3 linked regions of the Homo sapiens genome follow. The main gene of each other region encodes a partner of the protein of the gene in region 3 in a complex. Each region holds a gene or a part of one and is shown on either strand. Other genes may lie near its edges. A codon is read from its position in the direction of its gene.

The links. Proteins that work in one complex are often made in the same cells at the same time.
Region 1: the proteins of H4C15 (region 3) and TONSL are in contact, whole or in part, in a crystal structure (PDB 5JA4), measured with the Homo sapiens proteins. Residues at the interface, in NP_001029249.1 of Homo sapiens: Lys13 (codon at 835), Gly14 (codon at 832), Gly15 (codon at 829), Ala16 (codon at 826), Lys17 (codon at 823), Arg18 (codon at 820), His19 (codon at 817), Arg20 (codon at 814), Lys21 (codon at 811), Val22 (codon at 808), Leu23 (codon at 805), Arg24 (codon at 802), Asp25 (codon at 799), Ile27 (codon at 793), Gln28 (codon at 790), Glu54 (codon at 712), Gly57 (codon at 703), Val58 (codon at 700), Lys60 (codon at 694), Glu64 (codon at 682); in NP_038460.4 of Homo sapiens: Arg524, Asn526, Asp527, Met528, Glu530, Asp559, Tyr560, Cys561, Trp563, His567, Glu568, Asn571, Tyr572, Gly595, Glu597, Ile599, Asp604, Asn607, Cys608, Gly609, His610, Trp641, Tyr645, Asp648, Leu649, Asp650, Thr653.
Region 2: the proteins of H4C15 (region 3) and CHAF1B are in contact, whole or in part, in a cryo-EM structure (PDB 8IQG), measured with the Homo sapiens proteins. Residues at the interface, in NP_001029249.1 of Homo sapiens: Thr72 (codon at 658), Tyr73 (codon at 655), Thr74 (codon at 652), His76 (codon at 646), Ala77 (codon at 643), Lys78 (codon at 640), Arg79 (codon at 637), Met85 (codon at 619), Asp86 (codon at 616), Val88 (codon at 610), Tyr89 (codon at 607), Lys92 (codon at 598), Arg93 (codon at 595), Gly95 (codon at 589), Thr97 (codon at 583), Leu98 (codon at 580), Tyr99 (codon at 577), Gly100 (codon at 574), Phe101 (codon at 571), Gly102 (codon at 568); in NP_005432.1 of Homo sapiens: Lys13 (codon at 2,326), Pro15 (codon at 2,320), Tyr17 (codon at 2,314), Val37 (codon at 2,254), Lys67 (codon at 829), Ala68 (codon at 826), Asn70 (codon at 820), Asp86 (codon at 772), Asp87, Glu130, Asp131, Tyr133, Val149, Asn151, Lys171, Tyr173, Gln175, Asp231, Met233, Lys234, Ser235, Phe236, His347, Thr348, Thr366, Asp367.

Annotation. Positions count from the first base shown.
Region 1 is NC_000008.11:144,441,334-144,448,284, forward strand, and holds the start of TONSL (tonsoku-like protein), read right to left. Parts: upstream 3,108-6,951; 5' UTR 3,082-3,107; coding exon 3,057-3,081; intron 2,943-3,056; coding exon 2,847-2,942; intron 2,692-2,846; coding exon 2,549-2,691; intron 1,989-2,548; coding exon 1,805-1,988; intron 1,474-1,804; coding exon 1,344-1,473; intron 1,080-1,343; coding exon 908-1,079; intron 819-907; coding exon 704-818; intron 1-703. UniProt on the Homo sapiens protein: Component of the MMS22L-TONSL complex, a complex that promotes homologous recombination-mediated repair of double-strand breaks (DSBs) at stalled or collapsed replication forks.
Region 2 is NC_000021.9:36,381,126-36,388,498, reverse strand, and holds the start of CHAF1B (chromatin assembly factor 1 subunit B), read right to left. Parts: upstream 3,108-7,373; 5' UTR 3,048-3,107; intron 2,440-3,047; 5' UTR 2,363-2,439; coding exon 2,237-2,362; intron 902-2,236; coding exon 769-901; intron 1-768. UniProt on the Homo sapiens protein: Acts as a component of the histone chaperone complex chromatin assembly factor 1 (CAF-1), which assembles histone octamers onto DNA during replication and repair.
Region 3 is NC_000001.11:149,860,261-149,866,074, forward strand, and holds H4C15 (histone H4), read right to left. Parts: upstream 900-5,814; 5' UTR 872-899; coding exon 560-871; 3' UTR 504-559; downstream 1-503. UniProt on the Homo sapiens protein: Core component of nucleosome. Nucleosomes wrap and compact DNA into chromatin, limiting DNA accessibility to the cellular machineries which require DNA as a template.

The sequences.
Region 1 (6,951 bases), on a different chromosome or scaffold from region 3:
TGTAATCCTAGGACTTTGGGAGGCCGAGGCGGGCAGATCATGAGGTCAGGAGATCGAGACCATCCTGGCTAACATGGTGAAACCTCGTCTCTACTAAAAATACAAAAAATCAGCCGGGTGTGGTGGCGGGCACCTGTAGTCCCAGCTACTCGGGAGGCTGAGGCAGGAGAATGGCATGAACCCGGGAAGCGAAGCTTGCAGTGAGCCGAGATCATGCCACTGCACTCCAGCCTGGGTGACAGAGCGAGACTCCGTCTCAAGAAAAAAAAACAACACAACATGGATGGTGCCTGGCTCAAAGTAAGGGCTGACGGCTGCCAACCTCCAATGGTGGTCTCTGCCATCAGCACTCCTGGACCACGCGTGCCATCTCCTCTCCCACCCTGGGAGGCTAGGGGTACAACTACTGTCTCCAGTTTGCCAATGAAGATGGTGGCTGCGAAATAAAAGCCCAGCTGGTCTCCTGGCCGCCCTTTCATTGCCCCTGACACACTGTGTTGAGCTCAGAGAAAAAAGGGGGTCTTCTCCTGTCAGGAAGTAGGGGTACCTGCCCCTCTTGCTGAAGCTGCTGCCTCCAAGGACAGGTGCTCAGGCCTCCTCTGTGAGGGAGAGAGCCCTGTACACACCTGGCGGGACTCCACCCCGCCCCCAGGCTCACCCCTGCACACACCTCCCAGGGCCCCATTCGCACCCCCAGGCTCACCATGCTGGAGGTTCTGACAGATGGCTGCCCTCTGCACAGGCTTCTGGGAGCCCAGCCTGTAGGCCTTCTTCAGGGCTCGCTTGGCAGCCAAAAAGTCTCCCAGGTCTTGGAGGACCTGGAGAGCAAAGGACAGCAAAGGTTTTGCAGAATCCCCAAGGCCCGAATCTACGAGAGCCTGAGCTCGGAGCCACGCACAGCGGGTACCTGTGCAATAACCACGCAGCACTCGCTCTCCATGAACCGCTTCCTCATGGTGTGCGCACACTCCCGGGCACCCTCCAAGCAGCGCATAGCCTGGGAGTGCTGGCCCGCGCGCCAGTGGATGGTGCCCAGGTTGTAGCGGGCGCGGAATAGGTCCTCGTAAAGGTGGTTCTGCCTGCAGAGGGGTGACGACCACTGAGCACCCAGGAGTGTCCATGACAGCTGCTGATGCCACACGGGCCCCAGCCCTGCCATGCTGTGGTCTCAGGGCCCTAACCATGCCTGGCCTTCTCCCAGTGTGTGGCACAGGTGTGAGAGGTGGGGGGATGAGGCCCAGCCAGACTGCTCTCTCAGGAGGACTCTGGGAAAAATACTCCCCTAACTACTTCCTCCAGGAACAAGGGACTCCACTCCCTCCTGGGGCGGGGCAGGGCCTTACTCCGCAAGGAAGATGCTCTTCCTGAAGTAATCGTTGCACAGGGCTGTCTGCTGCAGGCTCTCAAAGGTGAGGCCCAGGTTGAGATAGAGGCGGGTCCTCATCTCATTCAGCTCTCCCTGGGCCAGTGTCCCTGGAAGATACCCCCCCAAACACTCAGCCACTTCCTCCCCACATGGGGTTTCCAGCTTTGGGCCCCATTTGGGGCCTGTGCAGCGCCTCTCCTACCCCCTCCCTCCTCCCGAGGTGGGTGCAAGTGTCCTGCGGCAGATGGAGCACAGAGTGGATAAAGAGCTGACGATCTCCAGGGGAAAGGTTGAGCGGGGCATGCACCCCTCACACAAGAGCCTTGCAAAGGGAGGGCTCCAGAAGACGGGATTGCCCAAGGAGGCTGCGGGGGTGCTGGGCTGCAGCCTCTTCGGCCCGAAGTTCAGGAGGCAGAAAACGCGGAGGGGTCTGCCCACCCTCCAGCTCCTCATCCACAATAGCCAAGCTCTTCTCAAAGGCAGCCTGTGCCTGCAGCAAAGCATCCCTCGACTGGCAGTGGTCATAGATGTCCAGGTGGGTGCGGCCGATGGTGGCCCAGGCCCTCTGCAGCTCCGTGTGGTTGCGCAGGGAATGTGCCAGCTCCAGGTACTGGTGCTGGTGCTGAGTGTGGAAGGAAGTCACTGCTGTGAGCCGACTCCGCCTCAAGCAAACCGGCACCGCCAGATTCCCAGAGACCCTGTTCTTGCTAAGGAAAGAGCCTGCTCCCCCTAACCCCCACAGAGCAGGCCAAGGCCAGACACGTGCCCCTCCTCTGCATGCCAAGGGCTCTCTGTGGTGACAGTGGCTTCACGCTGTATGCAGCCAACGCTGTCACGTGGGGAGGGGCAGCTGGGAGTTGGCGGGGGGGTTGCAGTCCTGCCTCCAGCAGCCAGGGTCAGGGAGAGCTTTTGGGATGGGGCCTGACCTCCCCCAACACAAACACAGCTAAAATAACGTTCAGTAATGGTTTCTGGTGCCAGGAAACCTACTCCTGCCCCAGTCCCAGGAAAGGCTGTGGGGTCCCCACCGGAGGACTGGCCCGGGGCGGTGAAGGCAAGGCTGCGTCAGGTCAGGTGTCCCCTCCAGCCCGAGGCTCCTGACGGCGAAGACCAGGCCTCCCTCCTCAGAAAAGGGCTCCAGAGGCCGACCGGGCTGGACGAGGCCAGTGAGGGCGCCCGCACCTGCAAGGCAGCCGGGTAGTCCTCCATCTCGGCCAGGCGCTCTCCGATCTTGCGGTGGGCCACGGCACAGCCCAGAGGGTCGTCAGCGCGCTCCCGAAGCTGCAGCTCCTGCCAGTGCTGCTCCAGAGCCTCGGCGTAGCGGCCTAGGCGGGGGCACAGCACGGCCTGGCAGGCGTCGCGGGTGCGAGGGCGGCCCTGGGGCGGCGTCTGCCGGAAGAGCCCGTCGCCCCCCGGCCCCCGATCCCGGCCCGGGCCCGGGCCCCGGCCCTGCCTCCCGCCTCCTGGTCCCGGCGCTCACCATGGCCGGCCAGGAGCTCCCCCAGCTGGTGGCACAGCGCGGCCTCTTCGCGCCGCTGCCCGGCCCTCTGCGCCTTGGCTTTCGCCTTGCTCAGCTCTGTGGGAGGAAGAGGAGGGCTGGGCCTCCGCGGCGGGGTCCGGGGCCGGGGCCGAGTCCCAAGCCCTCCCCAGCCTCCGCGCCCCCGGAGGAAGGGGTCCCCGAGGAACTTACGGCGAAGCTCGCGCTCCAGGCTCATGCTCGGATCGCCGCGGGATCCGGACTTCCCGCGCTGCGCCGCGGCCCCGCCCCTCGCCGCCGACACGCAGGCCCCGCCCCTCGCCGCCGACACGCAGGCCCCGCCCCTCGCCGCCGACACGCAGGCCCCGCCCCTCGCCGCCGACACGCAGGCCCCGCCCCTCGACGGCGGCGGCGGGCGCGGGGCATTCCGGGAAGTACGGTCGGCCCGCCCGCGGCATCCTCGGAGTTCTCGTGCGGGAGGAGCTGGGGCGGGGTGGCGGCGACAACTGGGGCGTCCCACCCTAGGGGCCGTCTTCCCGGACGCCGGGTTGGCCCGCGCGTGGAGCCCTCTGCCCGGCCCGGGGAGTGCCTGGTGGGGACCCCGTTCCTCCTCGTAGGCGGCGGGGACGCGGGAGGCCGGGGGCCCGGAGCCAGCCCGTCCGGGGTCGCAGCGCGCCCTGGGTGGGGTCTTCTGGGCTGCAGCCCCCGTGCCGCCCGCGCTACTCATGGTGGACGAGCTGTGCCGCCGCCCCAATTCCTCCCGAAATTCACACACACAGCCTGCTCACAGGCGCAACTATTAAAAACGAACGTAGTGTCCAGATAGACTGACGATAAATTCACGAGCATTTGGCTGTGGGGACGTAATAAGGTGTCAGGCGCGCTCCTCCTCCGCAGAACGCAGCTGGGTCACATTTGGGGACTCGGCCCCAAGGACTGTTTTGGGAGGGGAATGTGCTTTCCATAGTGAACAAGTATTGTTTCAGCAATGTGTATGCCAGCTGTATTCTCGGAAGAGTCAGTGAACCTGTGCTTCAGCTGCAGAAGTAGCCCGGGCACAGTGGCCCGCACTGTAATCCGAGCGCTATGGGAGGCCCGGTCAGGAGGATCGCTTGAGCCTAGCAGTACGAGACCAGCCTGGGCAACATAGTGAGGCCCCATCTTTCGTGTGTGTGTGTGTGTGAGACGGAGTCTCGTTCTGTCACCCAGGCTGGCGTGCAATGGTGTGATCTCGGCTCACCACAACCTCCGCCTCCCGAGTTCAAGCGATTTTCCTGCCTCAGCCTTCCAAGTAGCTGGGACTACAGGCGCGTGCCAGCATGCCCGGCTAATTTTTGCATTTTAGTAGAGACGGGGTTTCACCATGCTGGCCAGGCTGGTTTCAAACTCCTGACCTTGTGATCCGCCCACCTCGGCCTCCCAAAGTGCCGGTATTACAGGTGTAAGCCACCATGCCCAGCCCGATACCCCATCTTTATTTAAAAAAAAGAAAGGGAGGGAGGGAGGAAAAGAAAGAAAGGAAGAAAGAGAGGGCCGGGCGCAATGGCTCACCCCTGTAATCCCAGCACTTTGGGAGGCTGAGGCAGGCAGATCATGGGGTCAGTGGATCGAGACCATCCTGGCTAACACGGTGAAACCCCATCTCTACTAAAAATACAAAAAATTAGCCGGGCGTGGTGGCGGGTGTCTGTAGTCCCAGCTACTGGGGAGGCTGAGGCAGGAGAATGGCGTAAACCCGGGAGGCAGAGCTTGCAGTGAGCGGAGATGGCGCCACTGCACTCCAGCCTGGGCAACAGAGCGAGACTCTTGTCTCAAAAAAAAAAAAAAAAAGGAAGAAAGAGAGAAAACAACTGCAAAATTATGTCTAGAATCCTGTGACATGGGGCACCCAGGCCTCTAAAATACCCTTGCTATCCCCCATTACCTTGAGGACCAAACACCTGCCATGCCTTGGGTATCTGACTCCCGGCTACACAGCACACCCAGCACTGCACTCAGGTGCAGTGGCTGGTTTCCCAGAGGCCCCAGAGGAGGCTGGGTGCACAGAGTCCAACTGAGGAGCCTCAGGAGTGGAAGATAGATGAGTTAATTTCCATCGTAATTACAGCAAGTCGTTGGGCAAAACTCAGCCAGAGAGATCTGTTGGGGAGAGAGTGGTGTGATGCACTGACAGGTCCCTGGGTCCAGTAAAGGCTGCTGGAGCCCTCCTCAGGCTGACGGCAGAGCGCTGGCCTCCTGGCGTGGCCCCTGGACTGGGCAGATTTGGGCCTCGGTGCCTCCAAGGCTGCAGGGGTGGGACCAGGCCAAGCCTGCACACCTGTGCAGTCACAAGCTGCAGGAGGCAGGAAATCCAGGCAGGCCTGGGTGTGAGGACAGGTTGTGGAGGTCTGCACTGCCAACCCCTTGCCCATCCAAAGCATGGCTCTGAGCCAAGGCAACTACTTGGAGGGCAAGCTGGTGAGGTGTGTGAGGGGCACAGTGAGGCTTGAGGGAGGGAGTGGGGAGTGAGATTCAGAATCAGAGGACTCAGATGAACAGCTGAAGACAGGGTGGCTTGGACACCAGAGGGGCTCCCTGAGCTACCTGGACAACGATTAAGTATCCCCTTCAGCCCCAGGGTCCACAGGACAGCCCAGCTCCTGGAAGCCGAATTCCCCTTCAGAGACAACCCAATTTCTCTCTTTTTTTTTTTTTTTTTTCCGAGACAGAATTTTGTTCTTGTTGCCCAGGCTGGGGCACAATGGCGTGATTCTGGCTCACTGCAACCGCCTTCTCTCAGGTTCAAGTGATTCTCCTGCCTCAGCCTCTTGAGTAGCTGGGATTACAGATGCCCACCACCACGCCCAGCTAATTTTTGTATTTTTGTAGAGACAGGGTTTCACCATGTTGGTTAGGCTGGTCTCGAACTCCCAACCTCAGGTCATCCACCCGCCTCAGCCTCCCAAAGTGCTGGGATCACAGGCGTGAGCCACCATGCCCGGCTGACAACCCAATTTCTCTGTGCCTGTTTCCCCAGTAACCAGACAAGGTACACACGTCAGGCAGTGCTGTGCAGGGCTGCAGGCCTGGTGCAGATTGCCACAGGCTGAGGGCAGCAGGGGAGGCCAGCAGAGCCCAGAAGGCCCAGCTGTGTGTCTGTCTTCTGGTAAGGAAACACAGACAAAACATGGGTTGGAATATTTTTTTAAACTACAGTTGTTACATACAGAAAATATCCAAAGAGAACGCAGACCACAAAAGTGACACATAAGTCATTTCCAACAATGGTAAAAACACTTCTTGCTCTGCTCTTTAAAAAATTATTATTTTTTTGAGACGGAATCTCGCTTTGTCACCCAGGCTGCAGTGCAGTGGCACAATCTCAGCTCACTGAAACCTCTGCCTCCTGGGTTCAAGCGATTCTCCTGCCTCAGCCTCCTGAGTAGCTGGGATTACAGGCGCGCGCCACCACGCCCAGCTAATTTTTGTATTTTTAGTAGAGATGGGGTTTCACCATGTTGGTCAGGCTGGTCTCAAACTCCTAACCTCAGGTGATCCGCCCGCCTCGGCCTCCCAAAGTGCTGGGATTATAGGCGTGACCCACCGTGCCTGGCCTATTTTTATAAATGAGGGATGTGGTGCTCACCAGGGGGTGGGGATGAGACAAGGGAGGGAGAAGGGTGGGGCCTGGCTTAGGCTATGCCCCCCACATCTGCGGAGTGTGGACCCCCACGCCCCCATCCTCAGAGAAGACAAAGGAGCAGGTCGGGACGTCAAGATGTCTCAGGGTCTTGGACACAAGCCGTGTGTTTGGCGGTCCTGTCATGTGTGGCCCACGTTGGCAACGCCACGGGAAGCCCGTGCTCCAGTTCCCGGTGGCCGAGGACCCACCGTGGTCCTCCCAGGTGCCTGGCTCCCCCAGGCCATAAGGCTCAGCTGCTGCATGTCATGGTCACAGGGCAGATGCCTGCTGAGTACGCTGGGCCGCACTTGCAGACTTGAGGCACCCACATCCCACATCTGGAAGGGCCTTGTGTGGACACTGCCCTTGCCCTCAGGCCAGCCCCTCCCATCCTGAACTCCCACAGGGCTGGTTGCCCCGGGACTGCGGAGGTGGGGCTGCAGGAGC
Region 2 (7,373 bases), on a different chromosome or scaffold from region 3:
AGACTGTCTCAAAAAAAAAAAAAAAAAAAACTCCCAAAGCCAATTAATTACTAACACAGTCCTAAAGCCATTTAATTAATTACACAGAGACACAGAACTGACTCTGATCACCACAGATGTTAAACTAACAATCCAACAAAACCAGAACAGTCGCCTTGCTTGGGATGTGACAGAATGGTAAGTGCCTTTCCATCTCGTCTTAGAACAGCCTGGTGGGAGCTTGCGGGAAAGCAGCTGTTTTCAAACAGGTGTTCCTGGTTTCATCTTGCTGTCCTCCCTCCCTGACTCTACCACATTCCCTAGAACAGTATTTTACTGAACTACCTAAATGACAGATTGAGAGGGTCAGCCACACCTGAACTAAAAAGCATATCCAGGCCGGGCGCAGTGGCTCACGCCTGTAATCCCAACACTTTGGGAGGCCGAGGCAGGTGGATCACCTGAGGTCAGGAGTTCGAGATCAGCCTGACCAACATGATGAAACCCTGTCTCTACTAAAAACACACAAAAAAACTAGCCGGGCGTGGTGGCAGGCGCCTGTAATCCCAGCTACTCAGGAGGCTGAGGCAGGAGAATCGCTTGAACCCAGGAGGCGGAGGTTGCAGTGAGTCGAGTTTGCACCACTGCACTCCAGCCTGGGGAACAAGAGTGAAACTCTATCTCAAAAAAAAAAAAAAAGCATATCCAGCTCAAATCTCACTATCTGACACAAGACACACAGGTATCTATCTGGTTCCCGAAGAATCTCTGAAGGACAGCAATACTCACCATCTCCTCCCGATGCTAAAATTTCCCCAGTTGGAGAAAAACGCACAACATTGACGGCTTTGGTATGACGAGCAAGATTGGACAAAAATTCCACGATGGCTTTTCCATCTGGTCCCTTTTCTACCTTCCAGATCTGTCAATACCAACACATTCATTTGAAAAACATAGAATGGGCACATATTATACTGTCTGTATTAAAACAATACTATGGGCTGGGTGTGGTGGCTCACAACTGTAATCCCAGCAGTTTAGGAGGCCAAGGTGGGTAAATCACTTGAGGCCAGGAGTTCAAGACCAGCCTGGAAACACAGTGAGACCTAGTCTCTACAGAAAATTTAAAAAATTAGCCAAGTGTGATGGCACATGCCTGTAGTTCCAGTTATGCGGGAGGCTTAAGAGGGAGGATCACTTGAGCCCCGGGTCGGGGCTGCACTGAGCCAAGATCAGGCCACTGCACTCCAGCCTGGGCGACAGAGTAAGACCCTGTCTCAAAAAAAAAAAAAAAACAAAACTATGCTTATTTTCAGAAAGAAAACTTAGTTTTTCTTTTGAAACATAAAATCAAAGAACTCCCTATCTAAAACATAAATGTCTACTGTCCCCCTCCGCCTTCTTTCTAGAGCAACTTGTTACCCAGTAGGAACCAGGATCAGGATCCCAAAACAATGAACGTCCAGTTACAATAATCTAGGGAAAATGAATCAAATAAGAAAGCAGAGCCGGGCATGGTGGCTCAGGCCTGTAATCCCAGCACTTTGGGAGGCCAAGGTGGGTGGATCACCTGAGGTCAGGAGTTTGAGACCAGCCTGGCCAACATGGTAAAACCCCATCTCTACTAAAAATACAAAAATTAGCCAGGTGTGGTGATGAGCGGCTGTAGTCCCAGTTATTTGGGAGGCTGAGGCAGGAGAATAGCTTGAACCTGGGAGACAGAGGTTGCAGTAAGTCGAGATTGCACCACTGCACTCCCACCTGGGCAACAGAGCAAGACTCCGTCTCAAAAAAAAAAAAAAGAAAGCAGCTCTCTTTTGCTTTCATTGTTCACCGCAGGCCCTGGAAATTTAGCATTCTGGGCTAGATGACAAAGTAGTTTAGTTTGTTGACATACGTTAATTCATTCATTCATTTACTTAAGAGAAGGGTCTGGCTCTGTCACCCAGGCTGGAGTGCAGTGGAGTGATCGTTGCTTGCTTCAAACTCCTAGGCTCAAGCGATCCTCTCACTTCAACTTCCCAAGTAGCTGGGCCTACAGCTGCACACTGCCACGTCCCGCTACTTTTTCATGTCTGGCTGTTGCCCAGGCTGGTGTCGAACTCCTGGACTCAAGCGATCCTCTCACCTCAGCCTCCCAAAGCACTGGGATTACAGGCGTAAGCCACCGCGCCCAGCCGACACTGGTTTTAAGTAAAAGAATGAAAACTATTGCTTCAAGCAGTGTTCCCGGATGTCTATCTCTGCCCCAGTTTACCCTGACATTGGTGTCCACGCCGGCAGACGCCAGTCTGTGGATCCTCCCAGCCGTCCCATGCTGGAAGTCCAGGCTGTACACGGGCTCCTTGTTGTGCCAGGCTATTTCACAAGTGATGACTTTCATCCTCCTGAGTCTCGAAGGGGAAAAACGTTTCTCGGGCACCGTTCTACTTCTTCAAGACAGGAGAAAGCTGCAAAATGCTGGTGATGGATTAAACAACAGTGTTAACAGCAGCAAAGGGTTATTGAGCGCTGAATAGGGGCCAGGAGCCATTTAAAATGCACACTGCATTGGGAAAGGATGTTAACGTTGCCATCTGACAATAACACCTTGCTAGCTCCACCTAAAATGCTTCGCTGGGTCCTGACATCCACAAGTTTATGATACGCCGCTACATCCAGAAAAGCAAAACGAAACACCCAGGTAAAGGCTACCTAGGGGCCCCGGCCGTCTGCACGGCCTGTCCCCGCTTAGTAGGGGCTAGGGGCGCGCCCTGAGAGCCCGGGGAGGGGCCCGCCCCGGGAGGAGCCTCCCGGAAGAGGGGGCCAAACGGGGTAGGGGACCGGGGCGGCGGGGCGAGAGGAGAACCCCGCCTTTCCCAGGGACCGGGCGCTGGGCCCGGGAAGCTGGGACTGAGGCCGCCGGGAGGAGGCCGCGCGGGGCCGGGGGTGGACGGGGCCCCGCCGCCCCAACGCGCGCCGCTCCGGAGCTATCCCGGGGCCCAGGGGCCCGCCCTCGGCGAGGGCCTCTGGCCCGGACCGACGCGACCAAAAGAGCCGCGGAGCTGCCCGGGCCAGGGAAGCCGTACCTGGAGGGACCCGGACAGTCAGAGGCACCGTCACCTCCCGCGCAGCGCGCGCCGCTTCCCGCGCGCCGCAGGCCCCGCCCCCGCATGGGCGGGACCTCATAGACGCCCCGCCCCTCCAGCGGCCCTCAGGTCCCGCCCGACGTGGGCGGTACCCCAGGGAAGCCCCGCCCACTCATAGACGCCAAGGCGAGTCCTGCTCTGGCCCTGGGGTCGGAATCCCGGCCGGAATTTATGCCTGCCAGACCCACGACCGAAGGAAGAATGGATTCATTATTATTTATTATTATTATCCATTACTTATTCCTTGTTGATTCGCTCTTTTAGCAAAGGTTTACAGAGCCTGGGCTGTGTGTTAGACAGACCCTATGCTGGCGCTGGGCACTTGGAGGGCTAACACAACCGGTTCTCTTGCCCCTTCTGCAAACAAAAACTGAGATTTTTGGGTTTTCTGTATTGGCTTCTAGAACATTTTGGAGAGTTCAAAGCTATGAAATTGTTCAGTACCTAGCGCAAGGTTGCTTACATTTTATTATTATAGTAGATGCAGTTATAAACCCTTTTTAAGAACAGACTAACATTTTAAAGTGAGGCTGTAAATCAGTCGGTAGGCAGAGATAGATACCTCAGGCTTTTCGAAATGGGACGTTTCCAAATGAGACCTAATTTATCTGTGGGCTTCGCAGAAGGCCAGGAAACAAGTACCTCTGGATGCGCTGCTTTTACTGGATAAAAGAAACACACAGGGTTATCTGAGGAGCCAACTGCTCTAGGATTTTTGGAAAAAAAGAACAGACATGGATTCTTATATAAATACCGGCTGATGCTTTTAGCCAGCTTTATGAAAGGTACAGAAATTGCCTACAAATCCGTGTCTCATGTTGATGAGAATGGCTGTATGCTCCTTGAAGCCTGATTTCTACAGGAAGCTAGAATAACATAATCCGGATATGCAGTTTTTAGATTTTTCTCTTCAGGATTTACAGAGCTTGGACTGGGAATGACTATATACTTTAGATAATATGGCTGTTCTAAAAGTACAGATTCCTGGCCCTACTCAGCCCCATGATTCCGAATATCCAGCAGAGGCCCGTGCTCCAGGGGCTTGCATTTTCATAAACTCCCCGGTGGGTGTGATCATCAGTCTGTTTTGGAAAGCTCTGGATTCTTCGTGTCTCTCAAACATAAAATTTCTCCAAATTTCTCATAAATGCTGTTCATTCACAAATGAATAATCTGCCCACCTCTTGAAGTGTCACGACTCTGAACTGTGGATTTAAAAGATAAAAACACATGCTTTAAGTATTAAAAGTACATGAAGGAGTTGGCTTTCTTGGCGAACATTTTAGAGATCCGACTTCAGTGCCAACTTGATGAGCCAACACGGGCAGGGGATGCGGCTCTAGAGAGAGGCCCTGGGCTGTCAAATATTTTCTCAAAAAAAAAAAAAAAAGTATTTGTTCAAAACCTCAAAGTTTGCACCACAAATGTTGGACTAAAGAATTCCTGCCGGTCGCGGTAGCTCACGCCTGTAATCCCAGCACTTTAGGAGGCCGAGGTGGGCGGATCATGAGGTCAGGAGATCGAGGCCATCCTGGCTAACATGGTGAAACCCCATCTCTACAAAAATTACAAAAAATTAGTCGGGCGTGGCGGCGGGCGCCTGTAGTCCCAGCTACTCGGGAGGCTGAGGCAAGACAATGGCGTGAACCCGGGAAGCGGGGCTTGCAGTGAGCCGAGATCGTGCCACTGCACTCCAGCCTGGGCGAGAGAGCGAGACTCTGTCTCAAAAAAAAAAAAAAAAAAAAAAAAGGGAATTCCTATAACGCAATTCTAACTAGATTCCTCAACAACCACTGTTGTTCAGCTTGGGCCCCAAGCATCCATTTTGAGCAGAACTGCCTCAATTTAAGGGGACCAATGTTATTTGGTTCCTGAGAACTTTTTAATAATGAAAATTGATATAAAGGGACTAACTCTTAACTCAGCTTCGAAAAAAAACTTCTCAAGGCATTTTAATTTCCATTTGTAAGTGTGAACATTCTAAAATCAAAATCTGAGCCGGGCATGGTGGCTCACATCTATAATCCCAACGCTTTGGGAGGCCAAAGCAGGCAGATTGCTTGAGGCTAGGAGTTCCAGACCAGCCTGGCCAACATGGCAAAACCCCTTCTCTATAAAAATACAAAAACTATACAGAGTGGTAGTGTGTGCCTGTAATCCCAGCTACTCGGGATACTAGGGAGGCTGAGGCAAGAGAATCCATTGAACCCGGGACTTGGAGGTTGCAGTGAGCTGAGATGGCACCACTGCACTCCAGCCTGGGTGGCAGAGTGAGATTCTGTCTCAAAAAAAAAAAAAAAAAAAGCTTTGATAACAGACATACAAAATTCAGTACAGGGTTGGAAAAAAATGTTGAGCAAATATCAGAATAAGAAAACTAGGAGAAGCCAGGCGTAGTGGCTCACGCCTGTAATTGCAGCATCTGGGAGGCTGAAGCGGGCGGATCACTTGAGGTCAGGAATTTGAGACCAGCCTGGCCAACATGGTGAAACCCCATCTCTACTAAAAATAGAAAAAATAGGTCAGGCGCGGTGGCAGGCACCTGTAATCCCAGCTACTCAGGAGGCTGAGGCCAGAGAATCGTTTCAACCTGGGAGGCGGAGATTGCAGTGAGCCGAGATTGCGCCATTGCACTCCAGCCTGGGCAACAAGAGCAGAACTCCATCTCAAAAATAATAATAATAATAATAATAATAACAGCCAGGCATGGTGGTGGCGCCTGTAATCCCAGCTACTCGGAGGCTGAGGCACTAGAATCACTTGAACCCAGAGGGCAGTGAGCCAAGATCATGCCACTGCACTCCAGTCTGGGCGACAGAAACAGACTCAGTCTGAAAAAAAAAAAAAAAAAAAGAAAGAAAAAGAAAAATAGAAATGACGGAAATCAATACAGGAGATTGAGAACAACGGGACCTCTGGCACACTACTGGTGGAAGTGTAAACTGATGTAAATACTTTAGAAAACTGTTCAGCACTGTCTAATAAAGTTAATGATACGCCTACCCTATGACTCAGCAATTCCACTCCTTGGCATATATATCAGGAAAACAAAAGCAAACTCATACAAGAATCATTATCCATAATAGCCCCAAACTAGAAAGACACCAAATGTCCACCCACAGGAGAAAAGGTAATCAGACTGTGCCATATTCATACCACGGTATTCTACTCGGTAATCCAAAAGAAATACTGTGATAGTTAATTTTATGCCTCAGTTTGCCCGGGCTAAGACATACCCGATAGGTGGTCAACATTACTTCTGACTATGAGGGTGTTTCTGGAAGACTTTAGCATTTGAATCAGTAGACTGAGTACAGAAGATCCGCCCTCACCAACCTGGGCAGTATCTGGGGCATCATCCAACCTGTTGAGTCTGAAAAGAACAAAAAGTAGAGGAAGGGCAAATTCTGTCTCTTCTTGAGTTGGGACATCCTCTTCCACCCTCAGACATCAGAGCTCCTGGTTCTCAGGTCTTTTGACTCCAGGACTTATGCCACTGGTGTCCCTGGTTCTCAGGGCTTTGGAGTGGGACTAAGTTATACCACAGGCTTTCTTGGGTCTCCATCTTGCAGACAGCAGATCATGGGACTTCTCAGACTCCATAACCACTTAAGCCACTCCTCCTGATCAATCTCTTGCATCTATCATATTGGGCTCCGATTTTCTGGAGAACTCTACACTGACTGACACAGGCAGCAACATGGATGTGTGTGATGCACACAAGGAGTTATTATTTCAAGTGATTGGCAAACACAGAAATTTTATACTACCCCAAAGAAAGCTTACCTTCAGTCATACTATGGCTAGAAAATATTGGTATTGTTACATATATGCATACCTATGTATTTATGTATACATTAGGAAGAGCAAATACTTGTGTGGTTAGGAACCCAGATTTTCAGCAAAAGAGACTATATTATAGTCTCTTTTAGTTCAGTCTACTAAAAAGGCCTAGAAATGCCCAAACTAGGCCAGGCACAGTGGCTTATGCCGGTAATATCAACATTTTGGGAGGCTGAAGCAGGAGGATCACTTGAGCCCAGGAGTTCAAGACCAGCGTGGGCAACGTAGCAAGACTCCGTATCTAGAAAAAAAAAAAAAAAATCAGCCAGGCATGGTGGCATGCACCTATAGTCCCAGGTACTTGGGAGGCTGAGGAAGGCGAAGCACTTGAGCCCAGGAGTTTGAGGATGTAGTGAGCTATGATTATGCCATTGTACTCCAGCCTGGGCAACAGAGCAAGACCTGTCGCAAAAGAAAAAAAAA
Region 3 (5,814 bases):
GGTGAAATGAAGCCCAAAACAGTCAATCGTGAACTCTAAGCCGATCAGGTGGGAAAGCCGGCATCTCTAGAATGAAAACCTAAGGCTGCTTCTCCCACTTTGCCTGAGCAAATATAGTGAGATTACACAGCAAGGCATGTGTAAATTGCCAGTGCCTATTTCTCAGAACCAGATTTGGTGATCGCAAAGACTGACGTGGCCCTCTAGGTGTGCCTATACTGCACCAGAAGAGCAAGCCGAGAAAGCAGTGCTCAAACCTAGAGCATTCAACCTTTCATACCGATAAAGGCTTTAAAAAAAAAAAAAAAAAAAAAAAAAGCCCAGGTAAGTGAAAAAGCCGCTTTCGGTCAACGACTTAAGTCTTTACGGCTGTGAGCGCTATGGGCCGCGGTAGCTTTCCGTTAACTTCAGATCCGATTGTCGCCCCACTGCCAAAGTTACCTTCCAACATCGTTACTGTTGCACTTTACGCAGTCAAGTGTCCAACTCCTCAGATGAGCAAGTGGTCGGCCCTAAAAAGGGCCTTTGGGATCGAAACGTGCAAAGCTGGAGCGGCGGCCTAGCCTCCGAAGCCGTACAGGGTGCGCCCCTGGCGCTTGAGCGCGTACACCACATCCATGGCTGTGACGGTCTTGCGCTTGGCGTGCTCGGTGTAGGTGACTGCGTCCCGAATCACATTCTCCAGGAACACCTTCAGCACACCGCGGGTCTCCTCGTAAATGAGGCCAGAGATCCGCTTAACGCCGCCACGCCGAGCTAGACGCCGAATGGCAGGCTTGGTGATGCCCTGAATGTTGTCTCTCAAGACCTTGCGGTGGCGCTTAGCGCCCCCTTTGCCTAAGCCTTTTCCGCCCTTTCCTCTGCCGGACATGACCGCTGGAGCCCGATAGACAGCTTCTGTCAAGGCGAGCACCGTCTTCCCCTGATATACAAGAGTATCGGACCAGATTGAAAACCGAAAGCGCGCCGGCGGGAAGCGTTCTCAATTGTCCCCGCCCTCTCGACATTTCGTCATTTCTTTTCTGTTTTCCTCTCCCTCCTCCTCCACTCTGCTCAGGTCCCTCTCACTCTTTTTTTTTTTTAACCGCTACGCCACAGTCCCCGGGAGAATTCAGATCCCAACCGGGGCTTCCGGATTCTGTAGTGGCTTTGGCCTGTGTCTGGTCTGAGGACGCCCGGAAGGCATTGCACTGAGGCTAAGGGAAAGGTCTCTGGAGGGAGCCTCAGGAAGAGCAAATGGAGGCCAGAGACTGGCAGGAGCGCGCCAGCGCAGGATTTAATCCCGACGAGCGGATTCAGAGCCGTGCTTATATAAAGCTTCAGGAAGCGCCGTTCCGACGATGAGGTCGACACGCGAGAGGCGACCTCAAGAGCGGCGGCGCCAGGGATCTGTGCGCCAAGGGAGGACGGGAGGGAGCAGGTTCGCCATAATTCCTGGCTCCAGGCTCTGTTTTGTTGGACCGAGCCACTGTATTTTAGCTCACACAGGAGAATTCTGGCCCTGGGAAAATTGGTCTCAGCATGCTGCCAAGCTTTCTCATGGACGTCAGCGAATCCCAACACACTGTCGGTCAAAGCCGTGCTGGAAGAAACAAAACAGTTCTCCCTCGGTAGAACTGAGAGGGGATTGGTCCAGGGCCCCCGCCGATACCAAAATCCAGGTTGCTCAAGTCTCTCATAGAAAGTGGCGTAGTATTTGCACATAACTATGCACATCCTCCCGTGTACTTTAAATAGTCTCTAAATTACTTCGTAACACCTAATCCAGTGTAAATGCTATGTAAGTAATTGTTATACTGTTTTTATTTTTACTATCTTTTGTTGTACTTTTTTTTAAAAAAGAAATTCATTTGTTTAATATTTTCGGTCTTGGGGAACCCGCGTATATGGAGGGCCTGCTACATAGAGAAGACTGAGGGATATTCTGTGCATCCGTTTCTACGGATCCTCTAAATCGGCCTTTGTTTTCAGCCAGGATTTAGTGCCCAGCTGTGTCCTTTGGAGGCCCCACATGGAGCTAGCAAAGTTTGCTAAATCGGGTTTTGCAAGAGGACTGTCTGCTCCATACTGGGAGTAGTTACCGCAAACTGCCCTATGAAATTGGTTGGGGTTCTTACTGTTAGCATGTTTATTACTTTATCAGGGCTCTCTGTAGGAGAGTCTATGAGAAAATCTTCTGGTTTCTGCTGAAAGAATCGTGTTTTGTTGGGGTTTTTTTCCCGAAAAATATTATTTTTAAAAACTCTTCTGTGCCCTGTTTAATCTCTCCCTTGGATCCACCTTCTGTGTGCTCATAAATCGTAAATCTGTATTCAGACTTCTGGACTCGAGACACGTAGATCCACCTGGTGGTTCTTCAGTCATTTTAAGCCCAAAACTCAAAATCTCCCGAAATCAAAATGTTTAAACTTATAATCTCCAGGGTGTGACTCACGGGGGATGAGGGGAGCAATTCTCTCCCTCCCCGCATAAAGCTGGTTCTCCTGTCTGCTCATTGAACGGTTCCACTGCGCATCACAGCATCTACATGCCTAAACCAACACCCCAGCATTGGCAACAGATATCTTCCTCTCCCTTGGCTGCTTCAGGACAGGGAAGAAACATGCTTGCCCTTTTCTGACTCTTTAGTAACTCTGGCCGAATCTATCACATTATTTTACATCTCTTTACATCTTACTACTCCCCCATCTTGGCTGTGTGTTCCCTACTGGCAGTGATTTTTGTTTATTCATTTTTGTAAACTGACACTTAGTTCAGTGTCCAATATAAGCTCAACAATAGTTTATAAAAGGAAAAGTTCCTGCCTTTGATTGCTTTTAAACACTATTAGAAAAGACATAACCAAATTGCAACATGATAAAACAACCGCAAAACAAGGCTGAGAGAAGTGGTGATTTCTGGTGTCAGAGGGCACAGGACCCTGGGCAGAATCAGAGATACGGTGTCTGTGCAGTTCCCTTTTTAAGGGGATCAGGACATGCTACCTCCAAATGTGCCAGTTTCGACTTAAGAATTATTTTCAGCTGAAACAAACAGCTAAAATCCCTTACCTGTTTAATAGCAGATCCTCCTCGCAAATCTCAAATTTTTAACTCAGTTGTCATAAATCTTCTTCAGCACTAGAAGCAAATCTAACCTCGGAGATGAGAAGTGGTCACCACACCCAAATAGACATTGTCACAAGACTCGAATCTTCCATCTATTCTAAGGGCCCATTTATCTTTTCAAAAGTCATTTGGTTTTCCATATGTCCTTTACTCCTCCTCCTTTTCCCCTGCTGCTAGGTAGATCCCAAATTCTAACCACTCCTTTGAGTTACTCATCACAGAGTGCTCCCATGTATACACTTTTTTTTTTTTTGTTTGACTCAGGGTCTTACTCTGTCACCCAGGCTGGAGTGCAGTGGTGCAATCTCAGTTTAAACCCCCAAGTCTGTGGTATTTTGTTATAGTCCCCCTAGAAATTAATACAGGATTCATGGTCTGCCAAAGTCTCATTCCCTGCTCAGACCGACAATGGATAGTGGGATCCTTTGTGATATGTGCTCTGTGAGTTAGAAGTAGTAACTTAGAGCTGTTGAGGACAATACCTTTGCACCCCATCCACTGAATTTTGTTTTCAAAGATACAGTCTGAAACTCCCAGAGGGTGAGTGCCTTTCCAGTGTGTCAGAGCCATTAGTGGCTGAGCAGACCGCTGAGCATGTAGATTTCTAGGTCAGGGCCCTCTCCCCAAAGAATCATACTCCCTGGTTGAACTGAACCTAAATCAGGTTTAAAACTAGACAGATGCCAACCAACTTAAAATTCCAAAGATATCCAAGACCTGCCCATGGCCCTGGGATTTGAGGACAACGTGTGCATGTCATGGCTATGGCAGTTCAGGGGTCTCTAGCTTAGTGGGAATGTCTATGTCCTACCTTGACCCTTCTGAGTCTTCCGCCCGCATCTGCCCCTCCTATGACAATGGAGTATTCATTCCCCAGATACAGCACCGTGAAAGAGAGGCAGGAACACTGGATAGTCTAAGACCTGGTCTTTCTTGGCTGGTGTGAGACAGTGGAGGCCTCACTACTTGGTCTTTTCTGGTGTACTGTCAAAGGTTGAAGCTGGGGCCTTGTGACTGCCTCCTGTTCTCTGTTCCAGGGATGCTACACAATAGAAGCTCTGGGCCTTGACCATGGAAAGGTCCCATGAATTCTCCACTCAGCCCAACTGAGCCCCCTGCTCTCACACTGGGTGAGGAAACGATAGGCAGTGCGAACAGGTGTATGCACACTCACTGAGGAAGTGCAGCCTGTCTGACCCACTCTCTCTCACCCAGCCTAGGGTCAGGCCATGGCAGGACACTGTTTCCTTAACTATCAGCAGCCATCTTGGGGATTTCCCCACAGGGCCAGGGCAACAGAATCTGCTTCTCACTGTGACCATGGTCTGGAAGGACCATGAGGAATTCTCCAGTGCTGTCGGGGTTTCCGATACTGACACAGACAATTTAGTAACAGCTTTGACACCTTTTGGTAATAGGACAAAGTTAACACTCCTGCCACTATCCTGTGAAGGCCAACCTTCCTAGGCCCCATAGGAAACTTTTGGAATGTCTTTGTTGGGTTGAGAAACTGGGGCAAAGTAGTACCCAATTTTTTCATGTCAATATCAAAATGTAATCATTTCAGGTACACAGAGTTCCGCACTTTCAGATTAGTCTTAAAGAAAAGAAAATCGCCGGGAACGGTGGCTCGTGCCTGAAATCCCGGCACTTTGGGAGGCCGAGGCGGACGGATCACCTGAGGTCAGGAGTTCCAGACCAGCCTGACCAACATGGTGAAACCCCATCTCTACTAAAAATACAAAAAAAAAAAAAAAAAAATTAGCCGGGCTTGGTGGCGGGCGCCTGTAATCCCACCTACCCAGGAGGCTAAGCTGACAGGAGAATCGCTTGAACCCGGGAGGTGGAGGTTGCAGTGAGCTGACATCGCACCATTGCACTCCAGCCTGGGCGACAAAAGCGATACTCCATCTCAAAAAAAAAGAAAATCAAGTAAAGAGCAATTCACATTCTCTTGAAAATTCTCATTATGTCCAGCTGGTTCCGGGGAAAGCCTACCATGAAAGTGGTATTGTTACTTAGACTTAGGGTCCTTTGATCAGAATTGATGATGTCCTCAGCTAAGTCAGTGCTAGGAGTGGGCAGAGATGAAGTGATGGATGTGACAGAGTTGTAGAATATAGATTTAATAAGATTTGGTGTTTTAGGGCGGGGCGTGATGGCTCATGCCTGTAATCTCAGCACTTTGTGAGGCCAAGGTGGGCCGATCACATGAAGTCAGGAGTTCGAGACCAGCCTGGCCAACACAGTGAAACCTCCTCTCTGCTAAAAATACAAAAATTGACCGGGCGTGGTGGCTGACACCTGTAATCCCAGCACTTTGGGAAGCCAACGCGGGTAGATCACGAGGTCAGGAGATCGAGACCATCCTGGCTAACACGGTGAAACCCCGTCTCTACTACATATACAAAAAATTAGCCGGACGTGGTGGCGGGTGCCTGTAGTCCCAGCTACTCAGGAGGCTGAGGCAGGAGAATGGCGTGAACCCGGGAGGCGGTGCTTGCAGTGAGCTGAGATCGCACCACTGCACTCCAGCCTAGGCAACAGAGCAAGACTCCGTATCAAAAAAAAAAAAAAAAAAAAGAAAGAAGAAAGAAAGAAAGAAAGAAAGAAAGAAAGAAAGAAAGAAAGAAAGAAAGAAAGAAAGAAAGAAAAAATTGGTGATTTAGGCATTTGGAGAATGCATGCAATAAAGGAGCTTCTGGCC